Linked DNA regions of Homo sapiens: region 1 is linked to region 2. Evidence: fine-mapped QTL for protein levels in blood plasma. Region 2 holds a variant in brackets. A gene starts in the other region. All regions are shown on their forward strands. Region 1 holds the start of GSAP (gamma-secretase activating protein). Region 2 overlaps PYROXD2 (pyridine nucleotide-disulphide oxidoreductase domain 2).

The links. A credible set is the group of variants that fine-mapping cannot tell apart. PIP is the chance, under the fine-mapping model, that this variant and not a neighbour inherited with it causes the effect. Protein levels are from antibody-based Olink assays in UK Biobank. Linkage for the fine-mapping came from a reference panel and not from the study's own genotypes, which makes the PIPs less certain.
Region 1: GSAP starts here. The variant in region 2 is the best candidate, but not a certain one, in a credible set for the plasma level of the GSAP protein (UK Biobank, PIP 0.63).

What each region holds. Positions count from the first base shown.
Region 1 is chr7:77,414,270-77,418,656 of GRCh38, forward strand. GSAP (gamma-secretase activating protein) reads right to left here and starts at 2,080. Exons shown (of 31, transcript NM_017439.4): 1 at 1,944-2,080. The coding sequence starts at 2,052. LOC101927243 (a long non-coding RNA gene) reads left to right here and starts at 929. Exons shown (of 5, transcript NR_110073.1): 1 at 929-1,079. RefSeq lists silencers at 1,246-1,535, 1,596-1,805, 2,026-2,375.
Region 2 is chr10:98,402,011-98,406,397 of GRCh38, forward strand. All of the region lies in intron 4 of PYROXD2 (pyridine nucleotide-disulphide oxidoreductase domain 2), which reads right to left. Among named protein-coding and RNA genes, the nearest start is that of MIR1287, 8.9 kb to the left of the region's middle. RefSeq lists an enhancer at 2,911-2,960. The variant C/G (reference allele first, on the strand shown) is at 2,349.

The DNA.
Region 1 (4,387 bases), not on the chromosome of region 2:
TTGAAAGGATAATGATTTCCACAAATGTGTGTTGTAACTGCTGTGCTAGAAATGAGACAGAATCCCAGATTTCCCTGCCACTGCTATAAATTACAGAACAGGAATTAATTTGTGTGGGGGTATTTTTGAGCTACCACCCACTGGTGATTATCAGAGGTGATAATTCTCTTAGTATAACAGGGCTAATATCTTACCAAGATATTTGCTCTGAAAGAGCAAAATACTACCAGTATCAGAAAAGCTAGTATTTCCAGAAAGTACCTTCTGAGGACCTAGAGCTATCTGTTGTTTAGTGGAAGGTCAATACACAAGTTTATATTTCTTCAGAGATGAGCGAAAGATACAAGGAAGCCAGGTCCCAGTGGGTCACACACAGCTTTTCAAGCACGACACACATTACGGAAACATAAGACTGTGGCATTTCACACTCATCTAACTTCTCATTTGCAGACACCTGCCATTTAGCAAAATAAAGTGGGAGTCCAGAAAAAGGAGTACTTGGTAGTAGAAGACAGAGCTGCCTGTTGTATTTCAAAAAGTTAAGCCTTCAAAAACTTTTCAGACATGTGGGCGACTTTTTTTTTTTTTTTTTTTTTTTTTTTTTTTGAGACGGAGACTTACTCTGTTGCCCAGGCTGGAGTGCAGTGGCGAGATCTCGGCTCACTGCAACCTCTGCCTCCCAGGTTCAAGCGATTCTCCTGCCTCAGCCTCCCGAGTAGCTGGGATTACAGGAGCGTGTCACCACGCCCAGCTAATTTTTGTATAAAATTCTTCCTTGACCACCCTCTCCACCTCGAAAAAAAGTAAAGCCTTACTAAGCATGACACTAATGCAAACTCAATGCATACGCTACACAAACATATAACTCCTTATTTGGAGCTAATAATATTCCAAGCCAAGGAAACCTACAAATAATTTCGCTATAGTCATAGGAGAGTGTGAAGATACAAGATAGCAACTTGATATATAACTCACATCAAGAAAACTTTCACCAGCGTTTAAGGGAAAGGAGTTGTAGATGTGGGTCATTTAATACCCACTTCCAAATTCACTGAAGTGGACAGCGCCCTACACACAAGGTGAGACCTACAGGCATCATTGCTTTGAAGCTGCATTTAAGCTCTGAAGCTCCAATATTTATAGAAGACTTTTAAAACTTTGTAAGAAATCACAAAGTTCCCCTTCTTTAAAACAGATCAGTGCTGGGAAGGCTCAAAAGTCACTTTCACTCCCTTACCAAATCATCAAAAAGCCCGGAGTGGCAGGGCCGGGAGCCGAGCATCTCGCGCGCAGCCCCAGCCTGCACAGGTGCGGAGCTCGGGGGCGGCTGGGGGCTCTCGCCCCGCCGCGCGCAGCCTGGAGGCGGCCCCTGCCCTCTTGCGCCTCACCGCCGAGGCCCATGTCCCCTGAGCCACGGACACGGTTCAACAGACACATAAACACGTCTCGCAAATGTGGGGACAAACTGTTCCACCGTTAGGTATAGGGTGGTTTGCTTGGTGGTCACGGATTCTTTCTCAAAACGTGAAGCTTCCAGGAGCACTCCTGTCTTGGCAAAGCCCCTGCGCTGCCGATGAACCCCCCGGGAGGTGGGATGCGGCCGCTGAGCTGAGCACGACCCTCTGCCCTCGCCGTGAGGTGATGCTGAGGGAACCGCCAGCGGCCCGGCCCCTCTGCCAAGGGCGAATTTCCGCGGGCCGGCAGCGAGCCAGGCGCCTCAGGCCCCACGGCGACCTGGCCCGGGCTCTGCCCCCAGACCTTCCGCCGTGGCTGGGTGTGGGTGGCAAAGCCAAAACAGCCCTCTGAGGAGGGGAGCGACGCCCTCGCACCAGCCTTCTCAGGGCGGCGACGCCCCGGGTTGCTCCCCACCGGGTCGGAGTCCGGGGGGTATGAGGGACTCCCACTCCCCGCCCCCACCCCTCTCCGCAGCGCGCCTCCCGCACCTGCGCCGCCGCTTCCGGCCCCGCTGGCCTCCGACACTGCCCGCTGCGCCCGCAACCACGGGAGCACGTCCTTCCCGAGGTCGAAGTCGGCGACCAGGCGAAGAGCCATCGCCCGGACACGACCACCGGGCGGCTCTGGGGCCCCGCACCGCGGGCATTCCCGGCCCCGCGTGGCCGCCTCGCCCTCGCGTCCCCGCTCCCGCCCCCTCTTTCCTCTCCCCCGCCCCCTGCTGCTTTCGGTTCTGCAGCGCCCTGGCCTGAGAAGCTCCGGCACCAGCTCCTCCCGGCCGGCGGCCCGCACCTGAGCCGGAGCCGGAGCCGGGCACGGCGGGTAGCGGTGGGGCGGGGTGGACCAGGCGCCAGGACCAGGCCCGCCGGGGCGGGAGGCCTCCGCGCGCACCTTCGGGGCTGAGGATAGAGGGCGCAAAGACGTGGGCGCTTCAGGGCCTTGGCGAGGCCGCTAGCCCAGTGGCTTCCAAACCTGGAGGGTCGGCCTATTTTCTTTATTCTACAAGTGCCTCCACTGTGCAGCAAAGTGTGGAAACCACTTGGCTTGAGAGAGCTGGGTCCTCTGGAGCAGTTCAGGGTCACCACAGAAGTAGGCCGTCTCTTGGGCCTATTCGCCCCAGCTTCGAGGTGGTGGTGCTTTATTAGTGTTATTAAGGTAATGAGTAGCAACTGGGAGCGTATGACGAAGGTGATCCCATTGTAAGAGAAACGCTAAAAGGGGTTAATGCGCTTGATACAAACAGCGTCCTTTTTGCCTTTTAACTCTAGTACATCTCATTTGATGCCTTGAGACATGAAAACTGAATCTTAAGTCTCCACGCAAACCCTCTGCCTCCCACCAGGGTCTAACAGAGCACTCTGGAAGGTGCTCGACAATTACTGAAGAATGAGTGAATACAGTAATAAAGAATGCTTTTTCACATGCTTCCGAAATTAAGGTCTGAAAACTACTTGTATTGACGTCATCTGGGGCACTATTTTACAATGCAGACTCCTGATCTCTACACCTGGACAAGACCAGAAACGTGCATTTTACCCAGAGCCTCGGGTGATTCTTAGGCTTACTAAGTTTGAAAACTACTCCAACCAAATGTAAAAGAAAGTCTTGAATTTTTTTCCCTCCTAGAGACATGTTTCTCCAACTGAGGTAATGGATGATTTCAGGTAGAACTCCATTACTCACCACCATATACAGAGGAAAGTCCTCCCACCCGGGAAGTGCATGCAAATTTAAGATAAATGCCTAATGAAGCTGCTAATATTATCAGTGAATAAAAGGAAGGCCACTGGAGCCCCCAAGGAGCTAATGCAACTATTTCATATCAAATAAGCTTGTTGCCTTTGTCATACAGAAACACTGTTGGCCAATTTTTTAAAGTCAGTACATTTCCATTGTTTTTATTTTTGCAGTTAACTTCTATTTTTGCCAGGCAGGACTGATTTTATAGTCAAGCAGTGATGATATAAAAAATTCTCTTCAAATTAAGTGAAAAAGCCAATGTAAAGAAGGTGAGAAACAATAAGATAATGATAGAAAGATGTGGCCAAAATCATGAGGGTGCTATATGAAGGCATGTGTATCAGTTAGGATTAGATTCTCCAGAAGTTAATAAGAACTCAGATTAACAGTAAATTAAACACACAAGTTTTATTCTGTCACCTAGCTGGACGTAGGCAGAATAAAGCTCTTAGGGCAGGTTCCTGAATTTATCAGGGACCCAGGCTCCTTCCAGTTCTTTGCTCCACCTGATCCTGAGTGTACCCTTGTCCTCATGATCAAAGAGGGCTGCAGAAGCTTCAGCCTTCACGTCTGCATTCCAGAAATCAGAATGGAAGAAGAGGAATAAAAAGAGGATGCTACCTCTCTTTTAAGGATACTTCCCGGAAGTTCTACACAACATTTCTACGTATGTTTCACTCACCAGAATTTAGTCACATGGCCAAATGTAGCTTTCAAGGGAGGCAAGGAAATATACCTGGCCATTGCTGTGCCCAGATAAAAATCAGGACGGTATTACTGAAGAAGGTGGGGAAAGTAGATATTCAGAAGCAATTAGAGATCTCTGTCAGAGTATGATACCCGATTCCGGCCACTGAGTTGTAAGGAAACCTCTGCTATGACAGATTTCTCTATTCTTAAAACAAGAGACATGGGAAAAGATGGTCCCTTTCAGTCTTTAACTATTTCGGGATCTAGATATGATTGCTGGAATTTCAGCCATCTAGCACACTGAAAATGGAGTCATTGGAGTCAGGAGAGTCCAGAGAACTGCAGAGAAGAGAAACCTTGGTAAATTATTTTTGGAGCCATCCTCTGCCCTTTCTGATATTAGAGATGTTGAATTTCCTATTGTTTAAATGATATTCAGTCAGACTTTTATTTTACTTGCAACCAAGGGTTTCAATTTTAAGGAGTGATCATTTCAAAATTTAGG
Region 2 (4,387 bases):
ATTATATGTACTAGACTTTTTGACAACTGGCCACACAGTAGGCTTATCACCACAAACACATGAATAATATGTTGCAGTGCAACTATGGCATCGCTAGGGGACGGGAATTTTTTCAGCTCCATTGTAAGCTTATGGGACCACCACTGTATATAGTCTATCGTTGACCAACATGGTGGCACATGGCTGTCTTATTATCCTCATTGTACAAAAGCAACACGAGAGGCTCATAGGAGTTAAATAATTTGTCCCAGGTCACTTTAGGAGGTAGGTCTGGGTTTCAAAACCACAGCTCTGTAACTGCAAAGCCCCAGCTCTCAGCACCGGTCTGTAACTGCCCCACTTCAGAAATAAATAATTAAATTTAGAAAGACACAATCAAGCAATGGTTATGTGAAAATCTATACTTACAAGGTAGATAAATTATTCACATCAGAACATTTTATTTACTTTGCAGACTCATTTACTCCAGGGTCACTTTAAATGGAAGTTTCTTTGATGCATTTAAAATATGATTTGATTTACAAATATTTGATTAGCACACAGAATTTTCCAAGAGCACATCCACTTCTTCAAAGCAGGCACAGATAAAACAAAAGGGGCCTGTGCCGCCTCCAGTTTCTGCTGTCGAGAGGCTTCCTTCTCCAGATCCGTGGCCTGCAACCTCACGACTCGAGGTCTTGGCTGGAATGCCACCTTATCAGCCAGGCCTCCCCCGCACTCCCTGCCCCCTCACCCTGCAATATTTTTCTCCAAAGCACTTGTCAGCACATGGCTAATCACATATTTAGTGTTTTCATTGTCTCCCCAAGTAGAATGTAAGCCCTGTGAAGTCAGGGGCATTGTCTGTTTTGTTCACCGCTGTACCCTCCGCGTGTAGACACAGTGTAGTTAATAAGCATTCCGTCGACTCTGAATAAATGAATGCTAGGTTGCAGACAAGGTATGGCCCCAGAGGAGAGAAATGAGATCGGAGAGTAGACGTTTTAGAAAAGCACGAGGAAACCAAAAACAGGCTTTTCCAACAATTACCGCTGGAGTTGCTCCACACTGGAGATGCTCCAGGCGGGCAGGCTCGCCGCAGCTCTGGACACTCTGTGGAGGAGATTTCCGATGCTGGCGGGGGCCGGGGCCAGGAGACGGCTGGGGTCCCTCCTATCCCTAAGATGGAGACATTCTTTATTCTAAGCTAGAGAAACTTCCAGCTTCGTTCTTCTTAATGTAGTAAACTCACTCATACCCAGGAGGCATCCTTAGTCTCTCTCCTGGTCATCCTTGACATCCCATCCGCTGCCTCCAGAATCTGTGCGCGTCTCTCCAAGCCGCCATTTTGGGAACCGCTGCAGCGGCGGCCTAGTGCTCCACATGCGACCCCCTCCTGTTTCCTCCGAGTCCTCACCAGCCAGCAGGTGGGCTGACCTTTGTAAAGTCACAAATCCTAGCAGTGAACTTCCTGATCACACACCTCACTGGCTTCTCGCTGCACTTGGATAAAATGCAGTCCTGCCCCTCCCACCCCCATCTGGTGCTCTCTGCCTGTCTGCTCTGTCCACACTGACCTGCCCTCTGCTCACGCCTGCCTGGGTGGGTCCTTCTCTTCTTCCCTCTGACTGGAGACTGCTTAGATGTCCACATGGCTGCTGCTGGTGACCTCTTGGTACCTGAATACCAGCTCAAATGTCACCTCCTTGAGGAAGATGTCCTTCCTGGTCACCATCTAGGCTGGAATCTCCACTCTCTTTCTCTAATGCTGCCTTCTTTTCTTTTCTTCTTGGCACTCTCCCTGAAGTTCTCTGCCTAAGAGCAGTGTCCTTGCCTTCCTAGTTCACTGCCGTACACCCAAGGGCTTCTCTCAGTGCCTGGCACATAGCAGGTGCTCAGAAACATGGACTGAATGAACGAATAAACCCTCCAAATCAGGGACCTAAGAGGAATCCAAAAGTTATTTTAAGTATAACTAATTGACTATGAATCACTTTTCATTTGATTCATAATGAAACCTAAATGGAGGCTCTTCTAAATGGAGGCTCTGTCATTCTTAATGGTGTTAAATCAAATTTAGCTTAAAGCTGCCTCCTTAAATACTTTAAGCTCAACCTAAAGGTTTCTCTGTTCCTAGTGAACTATAACCTAGAAGGAGGCGTAAACAGACTGTAACCTACTTCTGTGTCAATCGCCGAGTTTTGGCCAATCAAAGGGGACCAACTGTTTAAACTGCGTTCAAATAAGGCAAACACTGAGCTGTAACCAATCCAGCTGTTTCTGTACCTCAATTCCATTTTCTGTACATCACTTTTCACTTTCTGTCTATAAATCTTCTTCTACCATGGAGCTGTGCTGGAGACTGTGAG[C/G]ATACTCCAGCTCGGGAGCCTGATTCATTTATGAATCATTCTTTGCCCAATTAAACTCTATTAAATTTAATTTAGTGAAGGTTTTTCTTTTAACAATAGGTTTAATTATGTGGAGTCTGAATGAGAAGGGGAATGTTAAATAACCATCAGATTATATCCACAAGATTTGTTCGGATTATGAAGCTTTTTTCTTAAAAAACAGAAAAAAAACCCAAAAAAACAAAATGAAAGCAAACCCTTCTTTTATTTACCCCATGAGAGTTCTCAGCATGCACAGTCATCCTGGGTGGAAATTGTTGGAAAGGGTGTGTGTGTGTGAAGGGTGTATCTGTGTGTGTGTCTAAAGGACCAGAGATACAAGAGATTTAAAGGGTGTGGTTCTCAAAGTTATGTTCTGGGGGCCTCCTCTTTCAGAATGACCTGAGAATGCCATAAAAACGACCGTTTCTGGGCCCCACCACTGCCACAGAATCAGACTCGTGAGCAAGAACCCCTGGGGTTTCCCCAGCAGTTTCCCCAGCAGTTTCCCAGGTCATACTTTGTGGCCCTGCAAATTAGAGCCCTACCTTAGAGAGATTTCCAGGAGAAAAGCAAGAGCAAAATGAATAAGGCTGAGTGAGACCCAGAAGGTCAGTGAGGGAGGGGAGGGAGGATGGGATTGCCTCTGGCAGTGAGGTCAAGGCTGGCCCAGGGGGAGATGGGGAAGGTGGCTTATGGCTGAAGGGGATGAAAAGCCCCCCTCCACACCCCCTTCTCCACCAGTGCAAAGGCTCTGCCCTTCCAGCCTGGATTCCATCATCCAGCGCAGGGCCGCTGCAAAAGCAAACTCATTTACTAGGTGGATGGAACCGGGAGGTGATCCAAGTCAGTGCTCGCATTGACAGCTGTGGAAACTAACACCCAGGAAGGGGAGGCAGGCCCTGGTGGGGACCACAGCGGGTCAGTGGAGGGTGCTTTGGCTCAAGGAGGGGAGGAGGGGCAGTGGTGCCAAAGCCAAGCCTCTCACTTTAGTTGAGGGCTCACTCTAATTGGATACAGCCTTATAAGTGGCAGGGTGGGTGAGTAGTCTCCAGCCATGGGTCTTTCTGGAGCCTCAGTTTTCTCAAGTGCCAAATGGGGGTAATAATAATAGCGACAAGTACTGAGCCCTCTGTGCACCAGGCACTGTGCTGATGTGGCCTTAGGAGGCAGCTGCTGTTACTATTCCCTCTTACAGATGAGGAAAAGAAGGCACCACGTGGTGAAATCACGCAGCTGGTGAGCTGTGGAGCAGGGAGGCAGACGCAGCCGGCCGGTTTCCAGCAGCTCCAGTCTCAGCCTCTGTGCACACTGCGCTGGAGCTGCCAGGGGCACTCTATCACCACGTTCACCGCAAAGTACCAAGAGCCAGAGACGTGTGAGTCTGGGCGGTATTGGTACCAAGAGGCCTGAGCGCATCATAGCTCAAGAACAAGGAGTAGGAGACAGTCAGGCCTTGGCTTGAATTCTCCATCACTTTCTAGCTGTGTGAATTTAACCCCTGAACTTTAGTTCCCTGATTATAACATGGCTCTTGACTTACAGGTAAGGATCAATTGAGATAGAACATTAAGGTCATAGCCCAAGATGTGATGCTGGTAAAATAAACGCTCTCCATTATAGTTTTGGAAAGACAATATTCCTGGAAGGAGTTTAGTTGTCCTCCTGTCAATGCCCTCCAGGCTGTCAATGTCCTGTTAAAACAAGGTGCTCCAGATGGGGTGAGTCCTGCGTATCACACAACAGGACTGCTTTCTCCCTGCTCTGAGCTCCATACTCCTATTACTGCAGCCCAAGGCAGAGGTTAAAGCATCTACTCAGTTCACTTGGGAGCTTCTAGTTCAAGGAACACTATGACAAATACCATTTCAAATAAGTAACGTTTTTTAAAGAAAGAGAATAATCAAGTGAAAATGTCCATTCTGTGATTCTTAGTCTCTTAAATCAGGTTTGCCAAAAGGAGGGTCCCTGCTCCCCAACATCTGCCACTATGAATAAGTGGTGCATTTATAAACTGCCTG